4 linked regions of the Homo sapiens genome follow. The protein of the gene in region 2 interacts with the protein of the main gene of each other region in a pairwise test. Each region holds a gene or a part of one and is shown on either strand. Other genes may lie near its edges.

Evidence for each region. Proteins that work in one complex are often made in the same cells at the same time.
Region 1: the proteins of TSNAX (region 2) and CEP68 interact in binary tests that used the Homo sapiens proteins (3 or more experiments, as listed by UniProt).
Region 3: the proteins of TSNAX (region 2) and GPATCH2 interact in binary tests that used the Homo sapiens proteins (3 or more experiments, as listed by UniProt).
Region 4: the proteins of TSNAX (region 2) and GLE1 interact in binary tests that used the Homo sapiens proteins (3 or more experiments, as listed by UniProt).

The regions. Positions count from the first base shown.
Region 1 is NC_000002.12:65,065,834-65,070,361, forward strand, and holds part of CEP68 (centrosomal protein of 68 kDa), read left to right. Parts: intron 1-3,565; 5' UTR 3,566-3,611; coding exon 3,612-3,968; intron 3,969-4,528. UniProt on the Homo sapiens protein: Involved in maintenance of centrosome cohesion, probably as part of a linker structure which prevents centrosome splitting. Required for localization of CDK5RAP2 to the centrosome during interphase. Contributes to CROCC/rootletin filament formation.
Region 2 is NC_000001.11:231,541,273-231,546,462, forward strand, and holds part of TSNAX (translin-associated protein X), read left to right. Parts: intron 1-1,208; coding exon 1,209-1,339; intron 1,340-5,190.
Region 3 is NC_000001.11:217,617,145-217,621,672, reverse strand, and holds part of GPATCH2 (G patch domain-containing protein 2), read left to right. Parts: intron 1-1,173; coding exon 1,174-1,890; intron 1,891-4,528. UniProt on the Homo sapiens protein: Enhances the ATPase activity of DHX15 in vitro.
Region 4 is NC_000009.12:128,510,637-128,515,164, forward strand, and holds part of GLE1 (mRNA export factor GLE1), read left to right. Parts: intron 1-4,528. UniProt on the Homo sapiens protein: Required for the export of mRNAs containing poly(A) tails from the nucleus into the cytoplasm. May be involved in the terminal step of the mRNA transport through the nuclear pore complex (NPC).

The sequences.
Region 1 (4,528 bases), on a different chromosome or scaffold from region 2:
TAGTCCCAGCTACTCAGAAGGCTGAAGCAGGAGAATTGCTTGAAGCCAGGGGCCGGAGGTTGCAGTGAGCCAAGATCACGCCACTGCACTCCAGCCTAGGTGACAAACCGAGACTTCATCTTAAAAAAAAAAAAAAAAACACAAGATTATGATTTACCTGCTTACTCAAATGGGTTCAAGTTCGCAGGTAGCTGGAGCCTGTCCCAGCAGCTGAGGGTGTAAGGAGGGAACCAATCATGGGCAGGACTTCATCCCATGGCAGGGCACGCTCACTCATCTACCCACACTCAGACCAGGACCATGTAGTCAGCCCCATTCACCTAAGTATATGTTTTCAGGATGTGGGAGGAAACCCGAGTATCCAGATGAACTGGATATCATCCAGGCAGACATGGGGAGAATGTGCACACTCCATACAGACAGTGACCTCAGTCAGGAATCAGGGTTTCTTATCAATGATATAATGAAAAGACATTGGACCGGCTGGGCGGTGTGGCTTACACCTGTAATCCTAGCACTTTGGGAGGCTGAGGCGGGTGGATCACGAGGTCAGAAGTTCAAGACCAGCCTGGCCAAGATGGCGAAACCCCGTCTCTATTAAAAATACAAAAATTGGCCAGGCACGGTGGCTCACGCCTGTAATCCCAGCACTTTGGGAGGCTGAGGCGGGTGGATCATAAGGTCAGAATTTCAAGACCAGCCTGGCCAGGATGGTGAAACCCCATCTCTACTAAAAATATAAAAATTAGCCAGGTGTGGTGGTGGGTGCCTGTAATCCCAGCTACTCGGGAGGCTGAGGCAGAGAATTGCTTGAACCCAGGAGGCAGAGGTTGCAGTGAGCCGAGATCACACCACTGCACACCAGCCTGGAAGACAGAGTGAGACTCTGTCTCAAAAAAAAAAAAAAAAAAAATATATATATATATATATATATACACACACAAAAAAAAATTAGCTGGGCATGGTGGCACATGCCTGTAATCCCAGCTGCTTGGGAGGCTGAGGCAGGAGAATTGCTTGAACCAGGGAGGCGGAGGTTGCAGTGAACTGAGATCGCACCAGTGCACTCCAGCCTGGGCAACAGAGTGAGACTCTGTCTCAAAAAAAAAAAAGATATCGTACCAAGTGATGTTACTGAAGGACCTGCTGTATTGCTTAGGAATGAGCCCCTAGATATTTTTTGTAGAGAAAAGAAAACCAAGGTTCTGAATAGTATGACCTATACAGTTTGCTACTTTTATGTAAAAAAAAAAAGGGAGGGAAGGATAAGCCTGGTACAGTGGCTTATGCCTATAATCCCAGCACTTTGGGAGGTGGGTGGATTGCCTGAGGTCAGGAGTTCAAGACCAGCCTGGCTAACATGGTGAAACCCCATCTCTACTAAAAATATAAAAAAATTAGCCAGGCATGGTGGCGCACGCCTGTAGTCCCAGCTAGCCGGGAGGCTGAGGTAGGAGAATCGCTTGAACCCGGGAGGTGGAGGTTGCAGTGAGCTGAGATCACACCGCTGAACTCTATCTAGCCTGGGTGATGGAGCAAGACTCAGTTTCTGGGGGAACAAAAGTGGGGGAAGGATGAACATAGATATTTGCATCAGGAAACAAGGGTCATACACAAAACTAGTAAGGCTGGTTCCCTGATTTTGTGGGAGTATCTAGTAGTAAATATTTTGTTTGATTTGTATTTAAAAATGGGCTGCTTTTTCTCCCATTTGGCTCCTTTGTCCTTCCTTGTAAGGTGACCTGTTACACTGATTCTGTCCATGCCTCCCCATGACACTAATGACAACAGCCAACACTTAGTGTCCATACCATGCCAGGCACTGTCATAGATGTTCTGCCTGCCCTGGCTCATTTTGGCAAAGGAATGGGGGACAAGGGCGGAGAGAGACTTACATCTGCTGTGCATTTTACATTTGAGCTGTATATTACCTTTCAAAAATAATTTTCTGATTAGTTCCTGCCCCACCTGGTGGTTGTGGGAACTAGACGAGCGTCCGTGCGAAGGGCATGCTCTTCTCCAGGGTCACTTCTGAATCAGGCTGGAGCCTGGCATGCCCCATCAGGCAGAGTAGGGAAGGGCCCTCTTGGATTCCAGTGCAAGGCGTCCTCAGTGTGTGCAGTGCCCATCTAGGTGGTATTTCCCAGCGTGTGAGCTGAGTAAGATGAGCCCGCAGCCATTCCCCCTTTGCAGGCTCTCCACCAGCATCTCCTCTTACCATCTGTTTGCCTCCTGACTAAGGAAACAAGGCCATTTCTGCCCACATTTAAGCTTTGAGGTTGGCCCAGTGCACTCCGGGTGGCTGCCGACATCCTGGGCATTCACGGTTCCGTTACCTCCCCTTCCACATCCTCCCAGCATTGGTCTTCCTCCTGTTGGCTTTTTGGCCCCCTACCCCATCCCACCAGGGCTCTCAGCATCAACTTTTGCTGGCATGCTTAGGCTGAGGGTGATGTCCCTCTGTTGTTCCTGAACCTCTTTGTGTTGGAATGGTCCTGTTTGCAGATTCAGCTCCCAAATCATCATCCTTCCCTGAGTGCTCGGCCTGTGCTCCCTCGCCTGCCTGCCTGCTGATTGGCTCTTGCTCTCATGTGCACACATGCTGTGTTACACTTACCCTACCACTGTTACCCACCAGCTTTCCACAGCTTCCCTCCATCACCACGTGCAGCATAACCCAGGCCAGCCTGAGGAGAGTTGCTGATCTCTTTCTCTTTGGTCACTGGCCATCCTTGGAACAAGTAGCTCTCACCTGTTCCACAGGCTGGATGTGGTTTCTGTGCTTTGAGAGGGTCCCAGCCTGGGCAACATGGTGAAACCCTGTCTCTACTAAAAATAGAAAAATTAGCCAGGCGTGGTGGCATGTGCCTGTAGTCCCAGCTACTCAGGAGGCTGAGGTGGGAGGATCACCTGAGCCCAGGGAGGTCGAGGCTGCAGTGAGCTGAGATCATGCCACTGCACTCCAGCCTGGGTGACAGAGTAAGACCCTGTCTCAGAAAAAAGAAAAAAAGAAAAGAAAAGAGAGGGTCCTGCCTCCTCTGCCAGGCAGAGCCAAGCATCTTGGAGGGCATTCTTCCAGTGCCCAGCTGAGGCCTGGGCATGCCCTGACTTGCTGTTCTCTAGGATAGAACAGTCAGAGCCAGGCCTGAGTTGCTTGCTGAGGGGACCGTTACGACAACAGAACCACTATGGGCCTGTGCACAGGAAGGGTCCCACCAGGCCTCTTACCCAGTGGGGTTGGGCTAAAAGGGCAAAAAGGTGACTTAGGCAGGACCCCAGCCTTGATTGGACTTTGGACCTGTGTTGACCCTCTTGGGTTTCTGCTGGTGGGGATGGCACCATCCACCATGAAAGCAGAGGGGAAATGGTGTGCTTCTGTGTCCCCTTTGGAAAGGTCTGGGGCCAGGGAAAAGCCGGAACTCGGTGCTCCTCTGAGGAAGTAGTCACCATTTGTTTCCTTTTTTCTTTGACCAAAAATATGTTTGCCTTAATTGTTAAAGAGCAAGACTTCCTGAACACAGATGTAGAAGATTTATATTTTTCTCTCCCTTCCCCTGTTTTGTAGGAAGCTGAAGTCTTCAGCAGAACCCTGACCTAGGTAGGGAGTCTCAATGGCCCTGGGTGAAGAAAAGGCAGAAGCGGAAGCATCTGAAGACACAAAGGCCCAGTCCTATGGGAGAGGGAGCTGCAGGGAGCGGGAGCTGGACATCCCAGGGCCCATGAGTGGGGAGCAGCCCCCACGCCTGGAAGCTGAGGGAGGGCTCATCTCCCCTGTATGGGGGGCAGAAGGGATACCTGCCCCTACTTGCTGGATTGGGACTGACCCTGGCGGCCCCTCTAGAGCCCACCAGCCACAGGCCAGTGATGCCAACAGAGAGCCCGTAGCTGAGAGGTCTGAGCCTGCACTCAGTGGCCTGCCTCCTGCCACCATGGGGTCTGGAGACCTTCTGCTCTCCGGGGAAAGCCAGGTAGGTACTAAGGCAAGACTGTAGATGGACCCATTGCTGTCCTTTGGGAGTTTGTTCAGGATTTCCTCACCATCTTGCATCCTTTCCTTGCTACTGTGCAGGGTGAGGAATTGGAGGGGCCTGAGTATGATGATTTCTGTTTTGCGGGTTCAGCTAGAGAGCTGGGCCTCAGGACCGGCCGGGGGGACTGTCCACGGTTATCTCCTGTTCCTCAAGAGTGACTGGTGACTTTTTAAGGACCAGGGATTATAGGCCAAGAGGCTGCTGCCCAGAGGTCCAGGCCAGGGGAATTCTGGCAAGGAGAGCCCTGCCGTGTTTCTGACTTGGTGATTAAAGGCTTTAGGGGTACCCTGAAGAGACTTGGGAAAGGAGTGTCCAGGGCTTTGGGCTCCTGGGGGCTCTGAACCTAAATCCTCTTCAGACCCAAGGGACATGTCAGAACCTTGGAGCCCTGTAGTAGGCAGCACTGTCCCTGGTTAAGGAGAATTCCTTGGGCTTCTCTGACTGCCAGGCAGCTTCTCCTAGTGGGAGTCACATGGGGCAGGGAATCCTACCAGGTT
Region 2 (5,190 bases):
TCTCACTTTGTACAATACTGTGTTTACTAAAATTTGTGCATACAAGAATCTTTTCACTTTGCATGATTTTTTGGTAACAGTTACTTTGCCAGTGAAGGTCACAGTTTTGATGTGCCCAAGTTTCAGTTAACACAGTACCATGCAAAGTAAGGACTACTTATCATTTCGCGTATGGTATAAAAATCTTATACTTCCTTTTCCATTTCCCCTCTACTAGCTTGGCCTTTTGTGCTACTGTTGTGATTCATGTTATTTCTACTTTTGTTGTTTCCACAATATGTTATGATTTTTACTTTAAACAGTATGATTTAAAAATAAGAAAAATATTTATCCACATTTACCAATTTTTGTAAATGTTCATTCCTTTGTGTATAGATTCAGATTTTTATCTGGTATCATTTTCCTTTTGCCTAAAGAACTTCTTTTAATATTTTTTGTAGTGTCAATCTGCTGATGATAAATCAATTCTTTCCGGCTCTGTGAACTAAGGGGATTGTTCTGCCTGCTCACTTTGGGCAATTCTTTTTCCAGCCTTAGGTAGTTTCCTCACATGCCTGCACTGATCAGTACTCAACTGAAGACTTGAGGAGGTTGCTTCTATAAATCTCTGAAGCTCTCTGTTTATACAGCTTTCTCCTCATTGTTACTCTGCTCTGCAAATTTTAGCTGTCTCGATCCCCCAAAACTCCCAACTCCTTTTCTACTCAGGCTGACTCCCAGGCTCCACCTAAGTTTCCTGTCTCTGTACTGTCACTTGGAAGCTTTCCAGGCAATAAGATGGGGCAGTCAGAGGGTATATGTTGTTCTCCTCCCTTTCCCCAGGGATCACTGCTCCATGCTGCCTGTAGTCCAGTGTCTGTAACCATTGTTTTCTGTATTTATTTTTTCTTTTTAGTTGTTTAAGGAGGGAGGATAAATCCAGTCCACGTTACTCTGCCCTTACTGAAAGCAGACATTTATCCATATATCATATTTTTATGAACAAAATTTTTCTTATAGTAAACATACAATTTTTGTATACTTTTTTCACTTAACAGTGTGTTAATAACATTTTCATGTTCTCCATACTATGAATAGTTTTGAGTAGTTTTGAGTTAGAAGTATATGAATGCATACAATATTTAGCCCTATGTTGATAATTAGGTTATTTTAGTTTTTCACTGTTAAAGCATCTGATGTTCTAAAAGTTCCCAATATCTTGATCATAGTGCTCCTGATATGGAAGATATATTGACTGAATCAGAAATTAAATTGGATGGTGTCAGACAAAAGATATTCCAGGTAGCCCAAGAGCTATCAGGGGAAGATATGCATCAGTTCCATCGAGCCATTACTACAGGTAAGTCTAGGTTTGTTTCAGGGTAATATATATTTTAAATGGTGTGCTACATGATTAACATGTGAGTTGCATGAATTTTAAGTGACACCTGATGAAATAATAATACTGGCTTTTAAAGAACTGCAACTTTGTAGTAATATAGAAGTAATCCAAAGGCAAGTTGGCTTTATGTTTTTTTTAACAGTGTAGTGATGGTCATTGATTGATTTTAATAAAGTATTTGAGAACACAGATTTAATAGGATGAACTTTATTCTTGAGTATGTAGGATGTGTTCAGACAGGGCACATCTCAGTGGTGGCTCACGCCTGTAATCCCAGCACTTTGGAAGGCCGAGGCGGGTGGATCACCAGGTCAGGAGTTCGAGACCAGCCTGGCCAAGATGGTGAAACCCCGACTCAACTAAAAAATACAAAACTTAGCCAGGTGCGTTGGCGGGCGCCTGTAATCCCAGCTACTCCGGAGGCTGAGGCAGGAGAATCACTTGAACCCGGGAGGTGGAGGTTGCAGTGAGCCGAGATCGCACCACTGCACTCCAGCCTGGGCGTCAGCACAAGACTCCGTCTCAAAAAAAAAAAATTTTGAGGGTATACTGGATCTTGGTGGTTATCATTATTTTCAAATAAATTGAATAAATGTATAAAGTGCTTGGTTCTTTCCTCTTTCTTCTTTTTCTAATGTGGGTTCATTGATAGGACAGATACTAGATAATTCAGATACAGGTTCAGTATCCCTTATCCAAAATGCTTGGGAACAGAAGTGTTTCAGATTTTGAGTGTTGAAATATTCACAGTTTACTGCTTGAGCATCTCTAATCCAGGAACCTGAAATGCTCCAATGAGCATTTCTTTTAAGCATGACCTTTGAGCATCGTGTCAGCACTCAAAACGTTTTGGATTTTGGACCATTTCGGATTTAGGATTTTTGGATTAGGAATGCTCAATATCAGTACCCTAAGATTTGCAGGAAGACTGGGAAATGAGTTTATTTGGTATCTGCTTAATACGAATACCCAGTTTTAGCCTAAACGTTTATAATTTCAGCACTTGTTTTTTCAGAAATGTTGATATGTCTTCTAATATGGGTAAGAGAAAGTACCAGCATACATTAGTTAAAACTGAGGGTGCATTGTTGGAAACTGAAGTGTAAAACAGTTCTGTGAGGAGTCATTATAACATATTACCAAATGAAATACAGTCTGCCATCATAATTTATTAATATCAGGGGTTTATTTGATTTCTTAATAATAGCACACACAATAAAGATGACTTCATGAATTTAGTTTGTTGTAAAGTGGCACAACCTGTAAAGTGTGACAGATTTGGCTGGAGTGGGAGACAGGATCAGAAGTACTGGTGGGAAGAAGGGTGAAGTAAAAGGTAAATCAAGCTTGGCAGAAAACATGAGAATATCTTTATAATAGTAGCTGTGACCATACTACAGATAGATTCATAGCAGGAAAATATTTCAGACAGAGTAGTCCTGCTATACATAAGTTAGGTATGCGTGTGTAATCTTGAGGGCTACTGGGTGGTAGTGTTGGTGGTGGTGGGGGACCAAGTTAGGTCTCTTAGTTTCTGGAAAGTGCTTGAACTGAAGCAGCAGTACAGTCTAAATGTCTGTATTAAACAGAAATCCAATTCTACAGCTTTTCCTAAGTATCCTATTAACCTGAATGACTAAAGGCAAGAGTTTGAATAACTTCCATAATCTTTATCATTTTTTCTATCACATCATCATGTAGTATGCCTATCTTGCAAAAATTCATGACAGTTAATAAATGTAATAAAAGCTGATCACAGTAGTTCTCACTTTGGACTTCAGTCTGCTTAAAACTTGTATTTTAATAAAAATTCACATATTTTCCCCAAAATGTTGGTGCCTCATGTGTGAAAAAGTTTTTCATGTTTAGACTTCTCAATTCCTTATTAGTGCATGATTAGGCTCTACTAATTGTGACAACATCAAGTTCCCCAAATATCTGTGGGACATATGGGACATTTCAGATTTGCTGTATTTGGCCCAGTAGTTCTATTTTGTATGTCCTCATGCATCAGTGAAGTATAAAGATAAAGAGTTTAAATAAGGGCCAAGGCCATATAGATAATGATACCAAAAGCAACCTAGAAAGCTGTACATTGTCTTACAGAACAGAGAAATGGAGAGAAAAAGGTGAAAGGGAAATATTCAGTAGATTATTTCCTAATGCAGGAAGGAAGTGCTGTACTCTTGGAAAGATAGGACATTAAGAAAATGGGAATGATAGATCTTCAGATTTTCCTACTTCACTGTATCATTGAGGATTATTATAAGCACAGTGGTCTCTTTTAGGCCTTCGTTTATGATTTGTAAGTTTCCTTTGAAGATAACTTACTCATGGATTAAAATAATGAAGGATTTTCTGTATCTTTTCTGTAAAAAGTCTTTAAAATGAGATTCTTTGAATTGAAGCAATAAAGATGTTTTTTCTTAAAGTTAAGGAATAAAGCAGTCAAGTAAAGAGGTGTCTAGGACCGAAAATTTTGCTGACAGATATTTTATTTGATAAAATAAGGTTATTTATAATTGGATTAGCATTAACAATATGATGCTTATGAATAGCTTGCTGCTTGTAATTGTTAAATGCTTGTTTTGGTATTACTCCAAATAGTTGTTCTTTTGACTTGAAGATAAAACAATTCTGGCAATGAACTAAAGGAGTTCTGTGCTTTTCCTCATTAAGAATAGTGCTAATGGCACGCAGAGCATTTCCCTAAGGGATACTTGTGTGAGCTCAAACATTGAGTATCCTAATAATTGAACAACAACAAAACGTCAGGTCTGTTTTCTACACATTTCTTATCAGAGTAGATTACAGATTGTCCCAAGGGATGGTTAAACAAATGAACAAATAATTAGCTGCTTGAAATAAGTCTTTAAAAAAAAATTTGTGTCCTGTCATTTTTTTTTTCCCTCTTGTTGAAAAATTAACAGTTTGGGGGAAATGTCCTCCATTTCAAAGAAGAAATACATGTTTTTTTCTTAAGTTTAGTTTATATCACTGATAATGATAAGAATTGTCATTTTTTGAGACATTTCGGTACACAAAACTAAGTTTATATCCTAATTAATGTTTTAATTCTTTTATCCAAGAATGTGAATGATGGGTAAAGTGGATGTTTTGGGCCAGTTAAGATATGTTTTTAGCCACTATTCTTTATATTCACAATCTCATAGGTTTTTGCAATACCTCTAAATCATAGATATTTTTACCACTTCACAGGCGGGGAGATTGAGGCTCACAAGTTATGCTCAGGGTCATAAGCTAGCACGTGGTACCATTGGTTTCTTCCCACATGGATTTCATTTACCTCTTAACTTTACAACCTAACTCCTAGCAAAGGCTTTATTTTGCTTACCCCAAATACTGAGGTTTTCCTCATAAACCCAGCACACACTGTGGCCCTTTTTTCATAGCACTTCTCAACTTCTAATGTGTAATCTCTTTATATATTATATTTCTTCATTATCTCTCTTTCCCTTACTAGAATGTAGACTCTATAGATCTCTACAAAGATTTCATTCCTGTTTTTCACTTTATATATCCCAGACACCTAATAAGTCTCCCGAAATACAAATGTTGAAAAGAATGAAGAACAAAACTAATTTTAAAAGGCTTTTTGTTGTTGTTCAGCCATATGCTTTATCTGATGATTTGCTTTCACAAGTTTATATTTTACTGTTTTTTGTTTCTTCCGAAAGAAAGCAAGTTTCCAGGAGCTATTTCTTAGACATACTAGCAGGAATAGGATCAATATTAATGTTTAGGGAAGTTCCAAAGCTACTATAGCAGTACAGAGAAATTCGATGTAG
Region 3 (4,528 bases), about 14 Mb from region 2:
TATGGGTCAGCAAACTATAACCAGCTATAACCTGATTCTATAAATAAAACTTTATTAGAACACAGCCATACCCATTTATTTATGTATTGCTTGTGGCTATTTTTGCATTATAGTGGCAAGTTGAGTAGTTTTGGGAGACCCAATGGCCTGCAAAGCCTAGAATATTTACTAGCAGGCCAGTTACATAAAAGCCTACTCCTGCTGTAGGCTCTAGAAGCTCTGTATGACTGTTGAGAATATTTCAATCCCTAGGTGCCTCTAGATCTCGATTTTAGAAATGATTGCCTGTGGTCTTCATAAGACGGGTGCAAATCTGAATTGCCTGTGATGTTTAAAAAATAAAACCAGATACCTTGGCTGTATGTCACCCCAACTAATTTAAAATCTTTGGGAATTGGGTTTTAAAAGGACAGGTATAATTTATAAAAATTCCCAAAGAATGCTTATGCTTATTCTTGCTGACTACTGGATAATTTTCATACTGGTAATATAGTTTAATGCTCTTAAAAAAGGAAAGCCTAAGAGATTGCTTCAGAATGAAGTAATGATGGGCCCTTTGAAACCAGTGAGGCTCCAATTTGAATGCGAATGTAGTTTGTGCTTCACTGGGTTAAGAGATTAGTGTGGCCTAAATAAATGCATGGTGTTGGTTAAACTTTCACGTATATTACTAATCCTGAAACTACCTGTCTGTCTTTCTAACTGCCTCTTATATGACAGTGACTGGTTAGGGCACGTGGTGAATAGAAGATTTCATGTTTCTTTTTTTACTTAGAGATTAGTGGGCGAAGAGGGGACTGAGAAAGTTCTTTCTGTATCTGCTGTAGGAAAACTGGCTCTAGAAAAGGGGTAGGAGTGGGCCAGCGGATAGGGATTTAAACAGAACTTTTCCATAATTATACAGAAAAATATAAAAATACTGGGATCTTTCATTGCTCATAAGCTTATTCTATCTTGGAAGTAATTCCTATGTTTAATAAAAGAACTTATATAAGAAGAGGCCTAAAATGAATCAATATTTAAAACTGTAATATCTTGGATAGGAAAATTAGCTTTGAAACATTTTGTAATCATTAATTTTTGTCGAATTTAGAATGAATTGTCTGTTATAGAAAATGAGGTTACTGTGGTTAAGACTGACTATTTTCTTTTTTCTTTCTCTAAAAAATGAAGGCATTTCAGTAGAACCATGGAGGAGCTGGTTCATGACCTTGTCTCAGCATTGGAAGAGAGCTCAGAGCAAGCTCGAGGTGGATTTGCTGAAACAGGAGACCATTCTCGAAGTATATCTTGCCCTCTGAAACGCCAGGCAAGGAAAAGGAGAGGGAGAAAACGGAGGTCGTATAATGTGCATCACCCGTGGGAGACTGGTCACTGCTTAAGTGAAGGCTCTGATTCTAGTTTAGAAGAACCAAGCAAGGACTATAGAGAGAATCACAATAATAATAAAAAAGATCACAGTGACTCTGATGACCAAATGTTAGTAGCAAAGCGCAGGCCGTCATCAAACTTAAATAATAATGTTCGAGGGAAAAGACCTCTATGGCATGAGTCTGATTTTGCTGTGGACAATGTTGGGAATAGAACTCTGCGCAGGAGGAGAAAGGTAAAACGCATGGCAGTAGATCTCCCACAGGACATCTCTAACAAACGGACAATGACCCAGCCACCTGAGGGTTGTAGAGATCAGGACATGGACAGTGATAGAGCCTACCAGTATCAAGAATTTACCAAGAACAAAGTCAAAAAAAGAAAGTTGAAAATAATCAGACAAGGACCAAAAATCCAAGATGAAGGAGTAGTTTTAGAAAGTGAGGAAACGAACCAGACCAATAAGGACAAAATGGAATGTGAAGAGCAAAAAGTCTCAGATGAGCTCATGAGTGAAAGGTGACTTTTATATTCTCTAAATATAAAAATATTTATCTCCAGTGTTTGTGGTTGAATGTTTTATATTTTAATTAATTCTATTTTAAAATAATTATAAATTGTAATAATGATAGTGATATTACTGTTTAGCTATGGTTATATTTCCTTATACTTTATGATGTTTAGCACAAAGCAAAATTGCTTGTTTGATTTACACAAAGTCTTTTGATTGTATTATAATGACTCAATTTTCAGCTACAAGGAGGAAAGGAAATGGATTTTCAGTGGAAAAGAATGTGCTTTTGAATAACAGCACGTTTGTAACTCAGAATTGGATATATAATTATATGTTTAATTATAGACCTTTAGCTTTTGGTACTTTATAGAGTGTCACAATTCATTAATCTATCCTGATTCTTGAACATCAAAAGTTTATACCACTTCGACATGTCTGTGGCTTGACATAAAAAATCTGGAGCTTTCTAGGAATTCTGATCACTTATGAATTTTAAAACCCAATTTATAGTCTAGAAACACCTGGTTTTGTCATTAGAAAAATAGGAAAAACAATGGTCCTGTGGTAGTAAATCTAATCTGTCAATAATTGTTAAGTACTATTTTGACAGCATCAAAAGGTAAGTGATCATTTTTCTTTTATACTGAAATGATGAAGTGATGCTACTTGCAAGAAATGAGAATGTATTAACACTTTTTCCTTTTAGGCATGGGTCCGCAAAACCGAATGCTGAACTATGAGCCAGAAAAAAACAGTCTGTAAATATGGCCTGAGAAAGAGTAATTGATTTTTAATTTATAGGGCTGCTATCTTTTTTTTTTTTTCGAGATAGAGACTCACTCTGTTTCCCAGGCTGGAGTGCAAGGGTGTGATCTCAGCTCATTGCAACCTCCACTTCCTGGGTTCAGGTGATTCTCCTGCCTCAGCCTCCGGAGTAGCTGGGATTACCTGTGTGCACCACCATGCCTGGCGAATTTTTTTTGTATTTTTAGTAGAGACGGGGTTTCACCATGTTGGCCAGGCTGGTCTTCAACCCCTGACCTCAAGTGATCCACCCACCTTGGCCTCCCAAGGGCTGGGATCATTTTAATCATGTGAATTGTGGTGAGCTATCAATCTTTTATTTGGTTTTTATTTTTTATTTTGTTTTTTTGGGGTTTTTTTGCTTGTAAATGAGTGGGACCTGGTAAAAGTTTATGGAATTATCCTTTTATTAGACATGGTGTGCTAGTCATATAATTTTTCTAAAGAAGTAAAAATTACTTACATTAAAAAATTGTGGCTGAGCATGGCGGCTCATGCCTTTACTCCCAGCACTTTGGTAGGCTGAGGCTGGTGGATCACCTGAGGTCAGGAGTTTGAGACCAGCCAGACCAGTATGGTGAAACCCCGTCTCTAGCAAAAATAGAAAAATTAGCCGAGTGTGGTGATGTGCGCCGAGTCCCAGCTACTCAGGAGGCTGAGGCAGGAGAATTGCTTGAACCTGGGAGGCGGAGATTACAGACATCCAAGATCGTGCCACTGCGACAGAGCAAGACTCTATCTCAAAAAAAAAAAAAAAAAAAAGTTTCCAGAGGGCTTTGAAAAGTTTATGGTATCTGTTTTTCTTGCAAGAAAATTGTCATTCTTATATGGAAATAAGTATTATTTGTATTAGGCCATTGTGACTTAAGACCATTCAACCTTACTTGAAAGTAATTGTCTGACTCAATTACCGGGAGGGAGAGTATGTGGCAGCTGATATAACATACTCAATTCTGGATTATTTACAATTAGATTACCTGCTTTTTGGATTCATTGTGCAAGCTCCCCCCCTTTTTTTTAGTTCTCCTTTTATTGATCTGCTTTTTTATAGGACATGTAACTGGTAATGGATATGAGATCAAACTCTCATTTTTCATTTCTTTTCATTGTAAAAAGTATTTGAGTATCTACTAGGCATGAACAGGCTACCTAGCAGTCCACAAACAGCCCAGGTACACGTTTTCAGAGTATGTTTTTACTCTTGAATAAATGTTAAAAAATATATTTTCTCTGATTTGAAACTTATTTATAAACTATTTTCTGTTGTCACTTAAAAGTTAGGTGCAAATTCCTTCTGTGCAAAGATTGCTAAATATTTAAGGTATTTTGGTAACAAGTATAAGCGTTTTCAAGACTACTTCCAAAGCTTTCCTACTACAAAAAGCTTTATATTTCCTTGGGGTTGATTTATAAATAAGAGAAACTTCAGTGTGGGGGGCTGTGTGTGTGTGTCAGATTTAACAAACATTGATGATTAACTACAATTTACTCTTCACTGGTGGCACCTGGACTAATAATGGAGACTCTGTTCTCAACAGCTGCATAGTCTGGGATAGCCAGGCAAGCAAATGATGAAAATGAAATGTGCTGAGTGGAAAGTATTAGTGAGGGAAGACTTGCTAAGGGAACTGTGCTTTAAAGCAAGTAGTAAGACTTGTTCAGGAATTGAGGAAGTCAAGAGAAGAGAGGGAAATGGCATTCATAGGTAGAGAGGGAGCAGCTTGTGCAAAGGCATGAATTGTGAAATGAAAATACATACTTTGTTTTTACCGGCAATAAAGTGGGATCAGAATTACAGCAAAAAGCATTTCTCAGAGGTCTATCTGCTATGGTAAATAG
Region 4 (4,528 bases), on a different chromosome or scaffold from region 2:
TTCTGCCTCAGCCTCCCAAGTAGCTGAGATTACAGGTGTGCGCCACCATGCCTGGCTAATTTTTGTATTCTTAGTAGAGACAGGATTTTGCCATGTTGTCCAGTCTGGTCTCAAACTACTGACCTCAGATGATCTACCCACCTCGGCCTCCCAAAGTGCTGGGATTATAGTCGTGAGCCACTGTGCCTGGCCAGTTTTTTTTTTTTTTTTCTTTTTTACATAGAAAGTATTTTTTTTCTATCTAGTAGTTCATCTTTTAAAATATTAGTCTTTAAAAAATATTCTTTGTGGCCACGTGTGGTGGCTCACACGTGTAATCCCAGCACTTTGGGAGGCTGAGGCAGGTGGATCACTTGAGATCAGTAGTTCGAGAGCAGCTTGACCACAGTGAAACCCTGTCTCTACTAAAAATACAAAATTAGCTGGGCGTCGTGGCGCACGCCTGTAATCCCATCTACTTGGGAGGCTGAGGCACTAGAATTGCTTGAACCCGGGAGACGGAGGTTGCAGTGAGCTGAGATCATGCCATTGTACTCTAGCCTGGGTAACGGAGCAAGACTCAGTCTCAAAATATATGTATATATAGAGACTGAGTAAATAATAACAACAAAATAAATAATATATATATTATAAATATACATAAATATATATATTTATGTTGATTTTGTTGTTGTTGTTGTTGCCAGAAAAGGTCTAGGTACTTTAAAATATATATTTTTAGCAACTGAACGTCTTAAGGAAAAAAAGGAACCTCCACCTAAATGTCATACCTTATATAAAAATTAACTTGGCCGGGTGCAGTGGCTCACGCCTGTAATCCCAGCACTTTGGGAGGCCAAGGCGGGTGGATCACTAGGTCAGGAGATCAAGACCATTCTGGCTAACACGGTCAAACCCCTTCTCTACTAAAAATAAAAAAAAAAATTAGGCGAGTTGGCGGGCACCTGTAGTCCCAGCTACTCAGGAGGCTGAGGCAGGAGAATGATGTGAACGCGGGAGGCAGAGCTTGCAGTGAGCTGAGATTGCGCCACTGCACACCAGCCTGGGCGACAGAGCAAGACTCCATCTCAAAAAAAAAAAAAAATTAACGTGATCATGGACTTAAACATAAAAAAAAAACTGTAAGCCTTTTAGAACTAAAACATAACCAGAATCTAGGGCTGGGTGAAGATTTATTTCTTTATTTATTTTTGAGACGAAGTCTCATTCTTGTCCCCCAGGCTGGAGTGCAATGGTGCAATCTCGGCTTAATGCAACCTCCGCCTCCCAGGTTCAAGTGATTCTCCTGCCTCAGCCTCCCGAGTAGCTGGGATTATAGGCGCCTGCCACCATGCCTGGCTAATTTTTGTACTTTTAGTAGACGGGGTTTCACCATGTTGGCCAGGCTGGTCTCGAACTCCTGTTCTCAGGTGATCTGCCCAACTTGGCCTCCCAAAGTTCTGGGATTACAGGCGTGAGCCACCAGGCCCGGCCTGGGTGAAGATTTATTTATTTAACATTCCTGAATTAGCAGAACTGTAGAGAAGGAGAATAGCTTAGAGATGAGGGATGGGGGAGGAAGTGGTGAGGCTATAAATATAGGTGTGACATGGGGTGGTTGGTGGTGATAGAACAGCTTTGTATCTTGAGTGTGGTGGTGTTTACATGAATCTACATGTGATAAAATTACATAGAACTATACATAAGCACAAATGAATGCCTTTAAAACTGGTGAAATCTGAATAAGCTCTGTGGATTGTACCAATATCAATTTACTGGTTTTGTTATTTTATTGTATTTATGAAAGACATTACTATTGGGGGAGACTGGGTGAAAAGTACATGCGACCTTCCTGTATGTATTTTTGCAACCTTCTGTGAACATTAATTATTTAAAAATTAAAATTTTTAAAAAGTATTTTTATGAGCAGCTTCTTGGCAACAGATTCTGATCTGATCCTGCCAATATTGTGGCGTGCCCTCAGGTGGGCCTCTTTTCCTCAGTGGACTTCAGTGTCTTTATCTGTAAATCTCATTCTGGACCAAATTGCTGAGGTCTTTTTTTTTTTTAATATGGAGTTTCGCTTTTGTCGCCCAGGCTGGAGTGCAATGGCGTGATCTCGACTCACTGCAACCCCAGGTTCAAGTGATTCTCCTGCCTCAGCCTCTTGAGTAGCTGGGATTACAGGCACGCGCCACCATGCCTGGCTAATTTTGTATTTTTCGTAGAGACGGGGTTTCACCATGTTGGTCAGGCTAGGTGACCTCAGGTGATCCACCCGCCTTGGCCTCCCAACATGCTGGGATTACAGGCATGAGCCACCGTGCCCAGCCCGAGGTTATTTTCACGTATAAAATTCCGTAATTTTTGGAGCCACTGCGCCTGGCCTAATAAATTATTAAATGGTTTTATGTAATGGATTGTCACATTATTTAGGAATTTTTGGTATTTACGTAAGAAAAACCCAGTTTGGCTTAAGGGACTGAGGGAAGTATTAATTAGTTCATGTAACTAGGAAGTCTAGGAGTGCATTTGGAATCACCTAGATCTAGGAACATCTACATTCTGCATCTTTCTGCTTGACATTATTTATTATTATTTTTCAAACATCTCCCCCACATAGGATTGATTATTTTTGACTCAATCTAGTGTCCCAAACATGGGGCTTTGCCTCTCCATTTCTCAGTTATTGGTTTCATTGTTGAGATAGATTAGGTGGCAAGATGGCTACTGGTAGCCCTGGACTCAGCATCTTCTTAGGTTAGCATTCCCAGATAGCTTCATCAGAAAAGTTCAAAGATATCCATGTCAGGTGTGTTAATGAAAATAAAAAAGCTGGGTGTGGAATCCCAGGACTTTGGGAGGCCAAGGCAGGTGGAACATTTGAGCTCAGGCATTCGAGACTAGCCTGCGCAACATGGGGAAACTCCATATTTACAAAAAAATTACCTGAACATGATGGCTCATGCCTACGGTCCCAGCTACTCAGAAGGCTGAGGTAGGAGGATCCTTGATCCTGGAAGGTCATGGCTGCAGTGAGCCTAGATAGCACGACTGTATGCCAGCACGGGTGATAGAGTAAGACCCTGTCTCAAAAAAAAAAAAAAGAAAAGAAAAAAGGCGGGGTGCGGTGGCTCACGCCTGTAATCCCAGCACTTTGGAAGGCCAAGGCGGGTGGATCACGAGGTCAAGAGATCAAGACCATCCTGGCTAACATGGTGAAACACCATCTCTACTAAAAATACAAAAAAAATTATCCTGGCGTGGTGGAGGGTTCCTGTAGTCCCAGCTACTTGGGAGGCTGAGGCAGGAGAATGGCATGAACCCGGGAGGCAGAGCTTGCAGTGAGCCGAGATTGCGCTACTGCACTCCAGCCTGGGCAACAGAGTGAGACTCCATCTCAAAAAAAAAAAAAAAGAAAAAGAAAAAGAAAAAAAATAGGCCAGGCATAGTGGCTCATGCCTGTAATTGTAGCACTTTGGGAGCCTGAGGTAGGAGGCTTGCCTGAGACTAGGAGTTTGGGACCAGCCTGGGCAACATGACAAAACCCTGTCTCTACAAAAAAATACAAAAATTAGCCAGGTGTGGTGGCGTGCGCCAGTGGTCCCAGCTACTTGTGAGACTGAGGCAGGAGGATCAATTGAAGCTGGAAGGTCCAGGCTGTAATGATCCGTGATCACGCCACTATACTCCAGCCTGGGAAACAGAGTGAGATCTTGTTTCAAAAAAAAAAAAAAAAAAAAACTTAGAAAAGTTCAAAGATGAACTCTGGCCTTCAGGTCATATTTTTCATTCCTCAAGTCCATACTGGGTGTAGGAGGATAGCAGACTTTTTTTTTTTTTTTTTTTGAGACGGAGTCTCTGTATCCCAGGCTAGAGTGCAGTCGTACGATCTCTGCGCACTGCAAGCTCCACCTCCCAGGTTCACGCCATTCTCCCGCCTCAGCCTCCCGAGTAGCTGGGACTACAGGCGCCCGCCACCATGCCTAGGCACGTGCCACCATGCCCGGCTAACTTGTGTATGTTTGGTAGAGACAGAGTATGTCTTGTGTATGTTTAGTAGAGACAGGGTTTAGTAGAGACAGGGTATGTCTTGTGTATGTTTAGTAGAGACAGGGTTTCACCATGTTGGTCAGGATAGTCTCAAACTCCTGACCTTGTAATCCGCCCACCACAGCCTCCCAAAGTGCTGGGGAAAAAGGTGCCTGGCCTTTTTTTTGAGATGGAGTCTTGCTCTGTCGCCCAGGCTGGAGTGCAGTGGCGCGATCTCAGCTCACTACAGCCTCCGCCTCCTGGGTTCAAGGGATTCTCCTGCCTTAGCCTGCCTCCTCAGTAGCTGGGATTATAGGTGCGTGCCACCACGCCTGGCTAATTTTTGTGTTTTTAGTAGGGACGGGGTTTCACCATGTTGGTCAGGATGGTCTCGAACTCCTGACTTTGTGATCCGCCCACCTCTGCCTCCCAAAGTACTGGGATTACAGGCGTGAGCCACCACACCCGGCCTGAGGATAGAGTACTTTGATAGCCAGCTTTCTCCTGAAGCCAGGAG